Linked DNA regions of Homo sapiens. The protein of the gene in region 1 purifies or fractionates together with the protein of each later gene. This does not show direct contact. Each region holds a gene or a part of one and is shown on either strand. Other genes may lie near its edges.

The links.
Region 2: the proteins of RUFY4 (region 1) and TRAPPC9 purify together in Homo sapiens (affinity purification with mass spectrometry; 3 studies listed by BioGRID and IntAct, with this or other methods). This does not show direct contact.

Annotation. Positions count from the first base shown.
Region 1 is NC_000002.12:218,064,283-218,072,363, forward strand, and holds the start of RUFY4 (RUN and FYVE domain-containing protein 4), read left to right. Parts: upstream 1-4,970; 5' UTR 4,971-5,066; exon of another isoform or gene 5,067-5,198; 5' UTR 5,199-5,276; intron 5,277-6,217; 5' UTR 6,218-6,323; coding exon 6,324-6,369; intron 6,370-6,467; coding exon of another isoform or gene 6,468-6,470; coding exon 6,471-6,577; intron 6,578-8,081. UniProt on the Homo sapiens protein: ARL8 effector that promotes the coupling of endolysosomes to dynein-dynactin for retrograde transport along microtubules. Acts by binding both GTP-bound ARL8 and dynein-dynactin.
Region 2 is NC_000008.11:140,454,660-140,462,721, reverse strand, and holds the start of TRAPPC9 (trafficking protein particle complex subunit 9), read left to right. Parts: upstream 1-4,977; 5' UTR 4,978-5,083; intron 5,084-8,062. UniProt on the Homo sapiens protein: Functions as an activator of NF-kappa-B through increased phosphorylation of the IKK complex. May function in neuronal cells differentiation. May play a role in vesicular transport from endoplasmic reticulum to Golgi.

The DNA.
Region 1 (8,081 bases):
CTCCTGGTTACAGTGCTGGCTCCCAGCTCTGGTGGTCAGCCAGACTGGCCAAGACCCTCCCCAGCCTGGACCAGCCCACTCCTCTCCAACTCCCTGCCCTCCATGGGCAGCAGAGTCCAAGCCAACCCCAAGTTGGGTCTCCAGTGCTGATCCCATTCGGGGCTCTCCCACCCACCTCTCCATCTCAATCCACATCCTCCCTCGCTCCATCCCACAACCCTGGGCCAGAGGTTTCAGGCAGGGGTTGCCCCAGCTGTAGCAAGTACTGAGGTCCGGGGAGAGCTGGAGTTGGGGATACAGGAGTGGCCACCAGCTGGCAGGGGAAGGTGCAACTTGAGGCCAAGTCTGAGCCACCATGATCTTTACCCACCCCAGGCAGCTTTAGGAGGGGAAGAGAGGGTGCTCCCCCTACACCTTCCCCACTGGTGCCATGCTGAAGGGGCAATTGGGGCTTCCAGAAGAGAAGTCCCTGTGCCCAAAGACCCTGGCACCCTAGTTTCCAGGTCCCCCTCCTATTCCCATCCCACAACCGCCTGCCTGCCTGCCCTCCCCCTCCAGTTCCTCCCCACCCAGCACCCATCCTATCCCCTAACCCCATCCCCTCCCCTGCAGGGAGCCCAGCCTTGAAGCACAGCAGGCTTCTCCGGGTCCCCCTTCATCACCCCGATCCCGTTTCCTTGTCTAGAACAGAGGCCAGCCTAAAACATCTGGGCAGGCAGTCCTAGCGCAAGTTCTGGATTGGGGGTTGGGGGACAGACACTGAGGTCAGCTCCATATGGATTCTCCAGCCTGGGAACGGGTGGAGAATCATCTCATCTTTGTGAGATGAGAGGGGCCATTTTCAACGTCCTCCCACTCCTTCCCACCCACACCCAAGCCATCTCCACATCGAGTCCTTTATCCAAAATTAGTCGTGGCCCCACTCAGCCCTCTCCCTGGCCCACTGCAGGCAGGGCATCAGAGTCAGAGTAGGAGAGGAGGGGTGGGGGGAGAGGGAGGGGCAGAGGGGAGGCAGCTTCAGTCTGCTCATTAACCACCTTGATTGGCCATTTCTGCCCAGAGGGGCGAGGAAGGAGGAAGGGCTTGTGCTGGGGAAGGTGCAGGGCGTGCTCCTGCCAGGCTTTGCCCAAGGGCAAGGGAGCAGGGCCCATGCTTTAGAGTGGAGATGGAGACAGTGCTTTGAACCCTAACCTTGCCGGGCCTGCCAGCCCCACTCACTCACTCACCTTTCCTGTAGAGGAGCCACTGAATGAGGTGGGTGTCTGGGACAAGGGATTCCCAGGACAGGAGTGGTGGCTGGTGGTGGGAGTAGCAGCTGTGGCTGGCAAGAAGCTGGTTTCCCAGAAGAAGGCAGCGAGTGAGCCTGTGTCCAAGCAGGGAGCGGGATGCAAGGAGCAGAGCTGGCCCCAGGGCCACTGCTGGGAGCAACTGAGCAGAGGGCTCTACTAGTGGGGTTCCCTCCCAGACCAGCCCAGGAGGCGGGTCAGCAGTGCACCGCCTCCTTCCAGGAGTCAGACAGCAGTGGGCCCCCTCTGCCAGCCATGGCCTCCTTTAACCCCTGCAATGCCCTGCTGGCTGCACTCTAGCCGGCTCTGGCCAGGCCGTGTCAGGGCACAGACACTTGGGGCAGGAGATCACCAGGGAGTGTGGCTGCCCCTCCTTCAGCCACTGGCCTAGCAGCCTCCCTGGGGACAGGAGGGGTGGGGCCAGAAGACTTGGGGGACAAGGGGGGTGGGGAAGGGAACAGGGAGGCATCAGGGCCTTGAGAGGGCCAGGACCCCATAGAAGAGACACAGGTGCAGAGAAATGTCCAAAGTGCTGCTAGGTGGGGAAGGATGGTTGCTGAGATGATGATGATGATGATAACAATATAGCAACTGTCATCTTTTCTTTTCTTTTTTTTTTTTTTTTTTTTTTTGAGAAGGAATTTTGCTCTTGTCGCCCAGGCTGGAGCGCAGTGGCACAATCTCAGCTCACTGCAACCTCCACCTCCCAGGTTCAAGGGATTCTCCTGCCTCAGCCTCCCCAGAAGCTGGGATTACAGGCGCCTGCAACCACACTCAGCTAATTTTTGTATTTTTAGTAGGGACGGGGTTTTGCCATGTTGGTCTCGAATTCCTGACCTCAGGTGATCCTCCTGCCTCAGCCTCCCAAAGTGCTGGGATTACAGGCGTGAGCCACCACGCCCAGCCAACTGTCAACGTTTCTACAGCACTCTGCTTTATGCTATTTCCAATTCATTTTGTGATTGCAGGCCAGGAATCTCACTTCTTTTTTATTTTAACTTTTTATTTTAAAATAATTATGTGTTAACAGAAGAGATTCAATGACGGTACAGACAGTACAGGTCTCATATACCCTCCACCAGCTTTTCCTAAAGATAACGTCTTACATTACGTGCCACATGTGTCCAAACTAACTAATTTGCATTGCTGCAATGCTATTCAGAGGACTGTGAGCCTTATGAAAATGTCACCATATTCTGAAATGTCTGTTTTCTGTTCCAGAACCCAATCCAGGATCTCACATTACATTGGATTGTCGCGTCTTCATAATGTCTTTCAAAATGTGACAGATTTTCCGTTTCCTTGTTCTTTCACAAACACCACACTGTCTTGATTACTGTTGCTTTAATGGTAATTTCTAGACTCTGAGAGCTGAGGATACCGATACACCTGTGTGTTTAGTCAGTGGGAATTTTGTACACTTTTCTGTATTTACGAAATATTTCAACACGCTAATACAGACAAATGTCTGAAGCTGCCTTGTCAGTCACCGTCTCTGTGAGATGAGAGAGGTCATTTTCAACTTCCTCCCGCTCTTTATCACCCATGTACAAGCCATCTCCGCATCCGGTCCTTTCTCCCAAGTTAGTCGTGGCCCCACTTAGCCCCCTCCCTGGCTCATAATGTCTCTAACCCCAGCCACTGGCACCACCCCGCAGATGGCTGCCCCACCTCCCGGGCCCCTTGCTCTGCCTTCTGCCCTCCCAATCCATATACACACAGCACACATGGGAGGGCTCCAGGAGAGCCAGGAGAGGAATAGGGGCATGGAAGTAGCAGGACTGGCAGTAGGAGTGCCCTGGCAGGCAGCCCAGATGTCCGGGTAGCCACTGAGCCTTGGCTCCTGAGGGGATCAGCACCCAGTAGATGTTTATCCACCCCAAGAACGAGGGTATCACACCTCCTCTAGTGAGGGCCCAGGTGATGGGTGCAGGCTGCTCTTCCCTAAGCCCCTGAAGAGGGGAGCCCCAAGCAGCAGCAACCCCCACTGGAGCCAGAGTCAGGGCACACCAGCTGGGATGGAGCTTGTTCCCCACAGTTAGAGGAGGGAGGGAGTCACAGGCAAGCTCCAGGCTCTCCCAAGAGGCCGCTTAGAAACCAGCTCATCTGATGCAGATAGACACTCATCCCCATCCCTGTCCCTGCCACTGTTGCACACCAGCACACACACCTTCCCCTCCTTCTCGCCTTGATCATCCACCTCCACTGCCCCTGGCACCTCGCTCCATCCCAGCCCCACTGACTGTCCCTGCTCCTGCCCACCCTAGCCTGGCCCAACAGGCACCCCCTCATCCGTGTCAAAGCTGGCTGTGTGGGAGGTGGGGAGGCAGGGACATGGGGTGAAGCAAGGAGACCCACCAACAGGGAGTCCTGAGGTCACAGGGACCTAGAGAGGAGTTACCCATCCCTGGTGATGCCAAACACCTCCTCTTACTCTCCCAGGGAGAAACCAGCGCCACACCTGTACCAGGCAGAGTGGTTCCCTGGCAGACACCTGCCTCCCAGCTCAGACCTGGAGGAGGGCAGGGGGCTGGAGGACAGCAGGGGACTGGAGGAGGGCAGGGGACTGGAGGAGGGCAGGGGACTGGAGGATGGCAGGGGGTTAGAGGAGGGCAGGGGACTGGAGGAGGGCAGGGGGCTGGAGGATGGCAGGGGGTTAGAGGAGGGCAGGGGACTGGAGGGAGGCAGGGGGCTGGAGAAGGGCAGGGTGCTGGAGGAGCGCAGGGGCAGGGATCCTGGACAGGGCCTCAGACAGACTGAATTGGGAGGGCAAGAAAGAGACCAAGGGTGCAAAGTGAGACACAGGGAACAGAGAAAGGGAAGGAATGAGGGAAAGACAGGGATGGGAGACAGGGACATGACACGGGAGACAGAGATGGGGGTTTCAGCCTCTGCATGGGGGATATAGGGACGGAGGAGAGGGCAGACGGGCTGGGGCATCCCTTGTGCTGGTTTTTAGATGCGGTTCCTGGGGTTTGTGAAAACAGCCGTCCTCCCAGGCCCCTGCTCCTCTGCCCCCATACTAGCCCCTGCAGCAGCCCAGCCTGGAGAAACGAGGACCCAGCATGGAAAGACCCCAGCCTCAAGGAGGCAGAGCACAGCCAGGAAGGGAAGCCCCAGCCCACCTGGGAAACCCACCTGGCCCATTGCTGGGCACAGGATCTCACTGGTGGTCTCACATCCATCCTTTTGGGAATGAGATCAGGACTAGGGATTCGGCACTGGTGACCAGCACTCAGGTGGACCGCTCAGCTGACTGAGGTGGAGAAGGAAGGAGGAGCGTGGTGGGACCCTCGCCCTGCCCTCCCCACTCTGGAGCGCTGCCTCTCAGCCCAACCAAGTGACAGAGACGAGACAACCACAGGAATAGCAGCTGCGGAGCTCCATGGCCTCCCTCTGCCCCCTGGTGGTGAGAAGGAGAAAAGCAAGAGCAGGTGCTGAAAACGAAAAGGAAACTAGCAGCAGTCCCAGCTACCACAATGGATCAGCCCCCATTTGGCCAACAGGTGACTCTACCCCAGGTGGGCCTGAGAGGACCCATCCCCCATCTCACCATTCTGCCCCAGCGCCCTGGATCCTGCCTCTACCACTTCTTCCCTGCAGCGTCTGCGGTTCCCCCACCGCTGTGAGCCAGGTTCCCCCTCCAGGCTGCTGGGCTGGGACTGAGTTACTTCTTCCCAGGCTGTAAATCCTGGGACTGCTGTGCAAGGCAGAGTCACTAGGGACGGACTCTGGCAGCAGAGCTGCGCTCTCGTGCCCCAGCCAGCCAGGCTCTCCTGGGTGAGTAGCAGGGAGACCCCTGGAACTTACGGGGATAGAAGGAGTGTGATGCCAGGAGCCAGGGGAGGAAAATGCCTGGCAGAGACGAGGGAGAGGAGGAGACACATGGAGCCGTTCATGGATTTCACACAGGATCTGGGCTGGAAGGGGCTGCCGAGACCATCAGTCCAATCTTTGGTCTACAGGTTGGGAAACTGAGGCTCAAGGAAGGTGAGTGATTTGCCGGAGATCACACAGTGAGTTCATAGCCAGGCCAGGATGGAGACCCAGGTCTCTGGACTCCTGACCCCGTCCTCCCTGAATCCCATGCTCCACCCACCTCCCTCATTTACCTCCGTTTCCCTCTCCCCTTCCCTCCACTGTGTCCCACTGCTGTACCACTGCCACCCCACCCCAAACTCCAACAGCCACAGCCCGGGAGGCAGGACACCTGGGTTTTCCGCTCCATGCCTGGTCTTGACTCTAGGATCTCAGAATAAGGCCACCAGCTGTCAGGGCCACAGTGTCCCTCTCTGGGCCCCAGGACCCATGGGGAGGAGAAGAGGATGAGATCCCCCTGGAGAGAAAGGCAGTATTACAACCAGGCGCCCTGCTCCCCACACACACGCAGCATGTGCTCAGCCCCAGCCCTGGGGCCGTGCTTTACTTCTGCACCCTCTCCTCAAAGAACACATATTTTCCATTCAGCTGGGGCACAGGAAAGGATGAGTAGGTGTCTCGAGGAGACTGAGTACCCAGGCAAGGCTAGGGGCACTCCATGGGGAAGGAGTGGACACCCCCAGCCTAGTGTCCACATATCATGAGCCCTCACGGGGTCACTCACACCAAGTCAGGACCCAGAACACAGGCCCTGTGGGCACAGACACCTGAGTTCAAGTCCTGGGTACCTCTGTGATGCTGGATAAAAGACTTACCCTCTCCAATCCCCTGTTTCTCCTGGTCTAAAATGGAGTTAATAACCTCCAGGATTATGTGAGGATTGAATGGGACAAGGACATCAAGTGTTAGCACAGTGTCGTCACCCAGGGACTGCTCAATCGGTGGAGGCCACACCATCATCTTCACACACTGGCCTACAAGATAGAGCTGGGATTCTCCCCCTACTAGGTAACTTGCTATGTCACCCAAGATTAGTCACTTTCCCTCTGTAGGCTCTGCGTCCTGCTTTGTGTAAGGAGAGAGCTGGGCAGTGAGGCCGAAAGTCCTTCCTGAGCTCACAGTCCAAGTTGCAAGGAATCACATCATTTCCAAGTACCCATGGCAGAAGAGGGAGCCATCCTCAAGGTCACCAAAGACCTAAGAGGTGAGTGTGTCCTGAGAGATGCTCTGGGACTGAGTCATGGGAGAAGTCAGGGTCTGGGAGCCCCTCCCTCAGCGACCTGACATCTGCCATCCTCCCAGCAGCTGCCGTCTCTGCCATCCTCCAGGGCTATGGGGATGGGCAGGGGCCAGTGACGGACACCAGTGCCGAGCTGCACAGACTCTGTGGCTGCCTGGAGCTGCTGCTGCAGGTGGGACCTTCTCCTCCCCTTCCCCATCCCTCTCCCCAGACCCAGATAACTGGTGGGACATTCCTGGAAAATCAGGGAGGAGCCACAGCCCCCTTCCTTACCATGCACTGTGTCATCTCCCTCTCCCTCCTGACACCTAACCTCACTCTTGGAGTTTGTCACTGCAGCCTAAGAAGTGAAGTGGGGCAAAGCGGGGCTGGAAGGGACCCAGGCCTGGTGGTGGGACCCAGACCTGGGGGCAACCCCCACTGCTTAAACTTTCAGAGGCATTGATGTCCTAGGACTGGCCCTTCCTGCTGCTACTCAGAGCCCCAACTATGACCAGCACCGCTTTTATTGAATACTTGCTATGTGTCAGACTTCAGCCTCTATATGCCTGGCTTTATGCAATCCTCACTCTCGCCCTCTGAGACGCTTGATGTCCACCCCCCAACACCCCGACACACATCTTCCTGCTTCTCTGACTTCATCTTTTGCCACCCTGCCACTCATCTACTGCACTTCAGCTCCCCTGGCCTCTTGGATCTTCCTGGAGCACACCAGTCATGCTCCTGCCTCGGGGCCTTTGCTCGGGCTCTCCCCTCTACTTAGAATGCTCTTCCACTGGAATGCACAGCATACTTTCTCAGCTCCTTCAAGCAGGAAGGCTTTTCTGGGCACCCTAGATTTTCAACACACGTGCCACACACACCACACACCACAGCTACCACAATGGATCAGCCCCCATTTGGCCAACAGGTGACTCTACCCCAGGTCGGCCCGAGGGGACCCATCCCCCATCTCAGCATTTTCCATTCTCTTTCCTGCTTTATTTTTTTCTCCGTAGCAGTCATCACTATCTAACATACTCGATGCTTTACTTATCTCATCTGTTTGTTGTCTTAACTCCTTTATCAGGGCCACAGTGTCCCTCTCCGGGCCCCGGGACCCATCGGGAGGAGAAGAGGATGAGATCCCCCTGGAGAGAAAGGCAGTATTACAACCAGGCACCCTGCTCCCCACACACAGGCAGCATCTGCTCAGCCCCATCCCTGGGGCTGTGCTTTACTTCTGCACCCTCTCCTCAAAGAACACACATTTTCCATTCAGCTGGGGCACAGGAAAGGATGAGTAGGTGTCTTGAGGAGAATGAGTACCCAGGCAAGGCTAGGGGCACTCCATGGGGAAGGAGTGGACACCACCAGCCTAGTGTGGATCAAGATGTAAGTATCAAGATGTAAGTTCCATGAAGTCAGTTTGTTCATAGTTGTATCCCCAGACACACAGAGGAGGGCCTGGAATATAGCAAGAGCTCAATAAGGGCCTCTGAATGAATGAATAAGAACACTGAGGCTCAGGGAGGTCAAGCCCCTTGCTCGTGGTCACACAGCCAGTAAGGACAGGGCTGGGTCTGGATGCCGGGTGTGTCTGCAGGAGCCCTCTCCTCCAGTACATGTCCCCTCAGCAAGCTAGAATGCAGGGCGTGTTCTGGGAGGAAGCATTTCTACACTTTCTTTGCCTCATT
Region 2 (8,062 bases), on another chromosome or scaffold:
CCTCCCGAGTAGCTGGGATTACAGGCGCCCACCACCACGCCCGGCTAATTTTTGTATTATTATTATTATTTTTAGTAGAGACGGGGTTTTGCCATGTTGGCCAGGGTGGTGTCAAACTCCTGACCTCGTGATCCACCTGCCTCGGCCTCCCAAAGTGCTGGGATTACAGGTATGAGCCACCGTACCTGTCCCAGCCTGTACTTTTAACTCACAGCTGTGATAATTGTCAACCTCAGCAAGCCTTGTGGGGCATTAGTCCCATATATAGATTATATATATATTATATGTGTGTGTGTGTATGTGTGTGTGTATATATATTTAGACAGAGTTTCACTCTTTGCTCTGTCTCCCAGGCTGGAGTGCAGTGGCACGATCGAGCTGACTATAGCCTTGACTTTCTGAGCTCAAGCAATCCTCTCACCTCAGCATCCCAAGTAGCTGGGACTACAGGTGTGCACAATCGTGCCGGCTATTTTTTAAATTTTGTGTGGAGATGGGGTCTAGCTATGTTGCTTGGGCTCATCTCTAGCTCCTGGGATCAAACAATCCTCCCTCCTTGGCCTCTCAAAATGCTGGGATTACAGACATGAGATACCGAGGCCAGCTTGGTCCTATTTCTTGAGACCCCTTGACTGGATGTTTCAGGGAAGCATATTCTGGCTGAGTTTACTGGATAATTTTCTTGTAGAGCTTGTTATGAACTGAATGTTCATGTTCTTCCCAAATTCATATGTTTAAATTTATTCCCCAATATGATCATATATGGATGTGGGGCCTTTGGGAGGTAATTAGGTCATAAGGGCAGAACCCCCATGAATGGGATTAGTGCGCTTCTAAGAAGAGACCAGGCTGGACACGGTGGCTCATGCCTGTAATCCCAGCACTTTGGGAGGCTGAGGCAGGTGGATCACCTGAGGTCAGGAGTTCGAGACCAGCCTGGCCAACATGGTGAAACTGTGCCTCTACTTAAAATACAAAATTAGGCCGGGTGCGGTGGCTCATGCCTGTAATCCCAGCACTTCGGGAGGCTGAGGCAGGCGAATCACCTGAGGTCGGGAGTTTGAGAGCAGCCTGACCAACATGGAGAAACCCTGTCTCTACTAAAAAATACAAAAAATTAGCTGGGTGTGGAGGTGCATGCCTGTAATCCCAAGTACTCAGGAGGCTGAGGCAGGAGAATCGCTTGAACCCAGGAGGTGGAGGTTGTGGTGAGCTGAGATTGCGCCACTGCACTCCAGCCTGGGCAACAAGAGTGAGACTCTATCTTAAAAAAAAAAAAAAAAAAGAGACCAGACAGCTAGTTTGCTCTCTATCTGTCATGTGAAAATACAAGAAGCCAGCCATCTGCCATTCAGAAGATGACCTTCATCACACCCTACCCATGCTGGCGCCCTGATCTCAGTGTTGTTCTAGTAATTTCTTATATCTGCCCAAACCAACTAAGACAAATAGCCACATCATCAAAGCATTCTGCCTGTTAGGACTTTTGTAGAGGGGAGAGAGTGTGAGTATGAGGTTGGACCTGGTTATTTTAGAAATTCCTTCCAACCTTAGATGTCTGTAAATTCCTTGAGGGCAGGTTTTGTATGTTTGAATTGTCACCCTTCAGAGGAGATGCTTAGGAAATGTTAAAGATGCTAAAGGAGCACAGCCCCAGGACCTAGACAGTACGGGGACTGCTTTGGATGTTCTCATTTGATCATTGTGGGCTGGGCTGTGGCAGGCTCTTACACTCTCTGAGCCTCCGTTTTCTCATTGGTAAAAATGCAGAGTAATAATACCAGCACTTTGGGAGGCCGAGGTGGGAGGATCATGAGGTCAGGAGTTCGAGACCAGCCTGACCAACACGGTGAAACCCCGTCTCTACTAAAAATACAAAAATTAGCCGAGTGTGGTGGCGCGCACCTGTAATCTCAGCTACTCAGGAGGCTGAGGCAGGAGAATCGCGTGAACCCGGGAGGTGGAGGTTGCAGTGAGCTGAGATCGTGCCACTATACTCCAGCCTGGGTGACAGAGTGAGACTCTGTCTCAAAAAAGTAAATAAATAAATTTAAAAAAAAGCAGAATAATAGTCCCCGCTCTCCTTCCCCCACAGATTTGCTGAGACAGCAACATAAATTGATTGAAGTGTGTACATTGCAAATAAGCAATGTTTCCTTTTGCCAGCTTTCAATCTTGCTTTCCAAGTTGCTTGCCTTATCCACTTACAGACAGAATAAGAAAAGACCTATGCAAAAAGTAGAGTCTGTGGGGTCTGACAGCCCTGGATTTGAATCCCTAAATAGCACCAGCCATTTGTGTGACCCCAGCCAAGTAGGGTATCCTTTCTGGACTTCAGCACTAAAAATAGCTCCCTTGCTTGGATCTTATGAGGTAAGCTTGGAGCCTAGTTTCTGCACTCAGACCTCCATTAGCAGTGGCCTTTTAAATGTATCTTTTCTGTATTCTCTGTTAAGCCCATACGCTCTTTTGTTTATTTATTCATTTAAAAAAAATAAAAAAAACCACTTTTTTTTTGAGACAGGGTCTTGCTGTCTCTCCCAGGCTAGAGTGATCATGGTTTACTGCAGCCTCGACCTGGCTGGACTCAAGCGATCCTCTTGCCTCAGTCTCCTGAGTAGCTGTGGCTACAGGTTTGTGCCATCCTGCCCAGCTAATTTTGGTATTTTTTCCAAGAGACAGAGTTTCCCTGTGTTGCCCAGGCTGGTCTTAAACTCCTGGGCTCAAGCAATCCGTCTGCTTCGGCCTCCCAAAGTGCTGGGATTACAGCTGTGAGCCACTGCACGGCCTCCATGCGGTCGTAACACCATGAGGTAGCCACGTTGGGCAGCTTGTGCGTTGTCAGGGAGACACTCTTCCTCAGCCCCTGGGCACCTCTGTTGAAAACTTCCTGGCTGTCTGGCAGGCTGGAAATCAGCTCTATTTGTTTTGCCCTGAAGATATGTTTTATTTATAACTCATTCTGACTCTGTAGAAAATAATTCAATAAAAACTCAATTGGTTTTCCACTAGCCCTGAGCAGGGATGAGGGATAGTATCTTATTTTATAACACATGTGATAATAAAACAGCCCTGGTCACATAGCCCAGAGCGGGTAAGTGCCTGCTGGCTGAAAGGAAAAATGCTGGCTCAGACCATTTCTCCCTTGCTGCTGTATGTGCTGAGAAAACCACTCCTGTCCTCTTTACTTTTCCATTTTAGGATTTTTTTTTTTTTTTTTTTTGAGATGGGCTCTCTCTGTCACCCAGGCTGGAGTGCAGTGGTGTGATCTTGGTTTACTGCAGCCCCCGCCTCCCGGGTTCAAGAGATTCTCCTGCCTCAGACTGCCTAGTAGCTGGGATTACAGGCATGTACCACCACGCTCAACTAATTTTTGTATTTTTAGTGGAGACTGGAGTTTCACCATGTTGCCCAGGATGATCTTGAACTCCTGACCTCAGGTGATCCACCCGCCTTGGCTTCCCGAAGTGCTGAGATTACAGGTGTGAGCCACCACACCCAGCCCTTTTTAGTGTTTGTTGTTGTTGTTGTTTGAGATAGAGTTTTGCAGTTGTTGCCCAGGCTGGAGTGCAATCGCATGATCTCGGCTCACTGAAACCTCTGTCTTCCAGGTTCAAGCGATTCTCCTGCCTCAGCCTGCTGAGTAGCTGGGATTACAGGCGCGCGCCACCACATCTGGCTAATTTTGTATTTTTAGTAGAGACGGGGTTTCACCATGTTGGCCAGGCTGGTCTTGAACTCCTAACCTCAAGTGATCCACCCGCCTCAGTCTCCCAAAGTGTTGGGATTACAGGTGTGAGCCATTTCTCCTGGCCAGGATTTTTTAATTGAAAAAGAAATACATGTACATGTTAAAAGATTCAAACAGAACATTAAACATACATAACGGAGAGCGGCTCTCTGTTTTCAATTTTCCCTGCGGATGCCACTGTTAATTCATGTGCTGGGCATCTTAAGTCTGTAAGCCTCCCCCATCTCCTGCTTTATTTTATTTTATTTTTGAACCCAGAGGGGTTTAAATCCTTAAATGGCTTCTGCCCGCACTTAGCAAGCTTGGCGCCTTGGCACTGAACTAACGACAGCTGTCCTAGCCCCTGTCGCCTCTTTGGAACCTTTTATGTGGATGGATTGTTGGGGCCCTCAAAGTCGGGAGTGCCATGGTGCCAGCTGGGGATCAAGACCGCGCGCCACACAGGGGGAAGCCGGCCCAGGCTGGGGCTCGCACCTCACGTGCCTCCCGGGCCCTGCGATCCTGGAGGCGCTCCCAGGCCGCGCGCGCCACGGTCACCCACCCACGTGGGGGGCACGACCGTGGGAGTCACGGGGGGTACCGTGAGGGTCACAGGGGGTGCCGCAGGGATCCACAGTGGGCTTCCGCGGGGCCTCCACCCCTGAGCTTCACAGAGGAAGTGAAATTTGAGCTGCGCGCCCTGAAGGACTGGTAAGCGGCGGGGACAGAACTGGGCCTCCTTCCAGCTGCGCCGCCCCAGGTGCAGAAGCTTTCCTCCTAGTCTCTGTTCTCTTGCTCCGGTCCCTCCCTCCCTCCTCGCTCCATCTCCCTCCATCTCCCTCCTTCCCTCCTCCTCTTCCTCCCTCCTTTCACCCCTCCTTTTTCCCTCCCTCCTCCCTCCTCCACCCTCTCCCTGTCCCCCGCTTCTCTCTCTCGCTGCCCCTCCCTCCTTCTTTCACCCCTCCTCCTCCTACTCTCCTCCTCCTCCCTCCCCGTCCCCGCTTCTCTCCCTCGCTCCTCCTCCCTCCTTCTTTCACCCCACCTTTTTCTCTCCCTCCTCCCTCCTCCTCCTCCCTCCCCATGTCCCCTCCCTCCCTGTCCCCTCTTCTCTCCCTCGCTCCTCCTTCCTCTTTTCTCCCTCGCTCCTACCCCCTTGCTTCCCTCGCGTCTCTTGCAAAACCCGGGACGGATCGGGGGCCCAGGCCTGGCCTCCGCGCACGCGCAGGAGCAGCGCCGGCTCGGCCGCCAGTAGGAAGCGCCAGCCCAGAGCCTGGGAAGTGGCCGCAGAGGCTGCTCGGCCCCGCTGCCCGCCAGGTCGTGGGCTCCCGCTCCGGGCCCGGGGCCACCGGCTGTGTAAGTGCAAAGCGGGGGGGCTCCCGGTCAGGCAATTCGGACCGGCTGCGGGGAGGGCTGCGCGGCTGGCCGTGGAGTCGGCGCGTCCCGCGGAGGGGCTCGCCCGGCCCTCACCTGTCCGGGCGGAGCCCGCCACACCTGTCCGGGTCCGCTGCCGGGCCGGGGTTCAGCGTGCACCTGCTCGAGGCGCCCTTGCTCCTGTTGGCGCTCTGCTTACATCTGTCCAAGGCCGTGTCCCACACCCGCTGAAGACTCGGCGGACACCTGTCCGGGACCCGGCCCACACCTGCTGCCCGGGCCGGCTCTGCTCTCCCGAGCTCGCGGCGGGGGTCCCCTTCCCCTCTGTGCCTCCGAGCTGTCTCCGCCTGGCTTCCCCTCCCGGGCCGTCCGCGGCGCTGGAGCCCCCCGCCCCTGGGCCTGGCTAAGCCCACTGGAGCCCGCGGGGTCTGGGACGCGCGGCTGGGGCCTGGGGCCCAGCACAGCCCACGCCCCCGGCGCTTTCCCCGCCCTGAGTTCCCGGACTTCTCCCCTAGCCCTTTCCCTCCTGTCTCCTGGATTCAAAGTGCCTGCGATCTAGCTGGGCGGCATCAGGCGGTGCTCTCTGGGATAAGCGCGCTGTCAACTCCAACTTATCCCAGGGAACCCTGGGGAGAGGAAGTCAGGCTACTGGCCTGTGGTCTTCTCCCTGTCAGCCCACCCCAATCCCCTCCACCCCTGCAGACCTTCCCAACGTGAATGTCTGTTAACCGAAAGTTTTCCCGTGTTAGGATGCGTTGTCTGTCTTCAAATGTTTCTATAGAGAGAGGAATTAAAACGCTGGAAGCAAGGCCCAGTTGAAAGGTATGGGGGAGTGACTTCCCTTCCATCCCTCACGGCCCCAGTTTAAACTGGTGACTGTCCCGTGTTTCTAAGGTAGTCATAGCTACCTATGACATCTTTATTTGTTAACCTGAAACAAAGCACCGGGTGGATGATGTTGGAGGCCCAGGAACATTGCCGTCCTAAAGATCTGGCTAGGTTTTGTTGTGTGTGTTTGTTCGTTTTTTTAATTGTGTGGAGGACTAGTAGTGTAGAGGGAAAAACAGTTGTCCGGAAACATGTAAACAATAAATGTTTCAGAAATCTAGTGTGTCAAAAATAACAGCTTCATTGAGCCTCGATTACCTGCCATAAAATCCACTGCTTTAAAGTGTACAATTCAGTGATTTTTCTTTTTTTTTTTTTTTTGAGACGGAGTCTCGCACTGTCGCCTGGGCTGGAGTGCAATGGCACGATCTTGGCTCACTGCACCCTCCGCCTCCTGGGTTCAAGCGATTCTCCTGCCTCAGCCTCCTGAGTAGCTGGGATTACAGGTGCCTGCCACCATGCCCGGCTACATTTTTTTTGTATTTTTAGTAGAGACGGGGTTTCACTCTGTTGGCCAGGCTGCTCTCGAACTCCTGACCTCGTGATCCACCCGCCTTGGCCTCCCAAAGTACTGGGATTACAGGCGTGAGCCACCATGCCTGGCCAATTCAGTAATTTTTAGTATATTCACACTTGTGTTACCATTGTCATTCCAGAACATTTTCATCACCCCAGAAAGAAACTCCATACCCATTAGCAGTCACTCCTCATTCCCCCCTCCGACAGCCCCTGGCGGCCACCGGTTTACTTTCGATATATATAGATTTGCATATTCAGGGCATTTCCTATTAATGGAATCATACAACATGTGGCCTTTTGTATTTAGCTTCTTTCATTCAGCACAGTGCTCTAAAGTTATTCATGTTGTGGCTTACATCAGCACTTTGTTCCTTTCTGTGGCTGAATAATATTCCATTGTATAGATTTAACATTTTGTGTATCAGGCAGTTGATGGACATTTGTGTTGTTTTCACTCCTTAGCTATTAAGAATAATGCTGTGCCTGGCCAGGCATGGTGGCTCACGCCTGTAATCCCAGCACTTTGGGAGGCCGAGGCGGGCAGATCACGAGGTCAAGAGATCGAGACCATCCCGGCCAACATGGTGAAACCCCCTCTCTACTAAAAATACAAAAATTAGCTGGGCATGGTGGTGGGCGCCTGTAGTCCCAGCTACTTGGGAGGCTGAGGCAGTAGAATCCCTTGAACCTGGGAGGCGGAGTTTGCAGTGAGCCGAGATCGCGCCACTGCTTTCCAGCCTGGCGACAGAGTGAGACTCCATCTCAAAACAACAAACAAACAAAAAACAAGAATAATGTTGTGCCTGTAATCCCAGCACTTTGGGAGGCTGAGGCGGGTGGATCACCTGAGATCATGAGTTCGAGACCAGCCTGGACAACATGGCAAAACCCTATCTCCACGGAAAATACAAAAATTAGCCGAGCATGGTGGCTCACGCCTGTAGTCCCAGCTACCCGGGAGGCCGAGGCATGAGAATCGCTTGAACCTGGGAGGCAGAGGTTGAGGTGAGCTGAAATCCTGCCACTGTACTCCAGCCTGGGTGACAGAGCGAAACTCCATCTCAGAAAAAGAGGAATAATACTGCTATGTACATTCCTGTACATGTTTCTGGTGTGGACACATGTTTTCAGATCTCTTGGATTGCTGGTTTTATAGTAGCTCTATGGAGGAACTACCAAGTTGAAGATACATATTTTTGCTGTTTTAATACCTGTATTAGCTTAGTCTCAGATACCAGAACTGGCTCAGTGGCAGGTGTCTTTTTTTTTTTTTTTTTAAAGAGTCTTACTTTGTCACCCAGGCTGGAGTGCAGTGGTGTGATCTCAGTTCACTGTAACCTCCTCCTCCCTGGGTTCAAGCGATTCCCGTGCCTCAGCCTCCCAAGTAGCTGGAATTATAGGTGCATGCCACCAAGCCTGGCTAATTTTTGTATTTTTAGTAGAGAAAGGGTTTTGCCATGTTGGCCAGGCTGGTCTCGAACTCCTGACCTCAGGCGATCCACTCGACTTGGCCTCCCAAAGTGTTGAGATCACAGGTGTGAGGTCAGGTTGTGT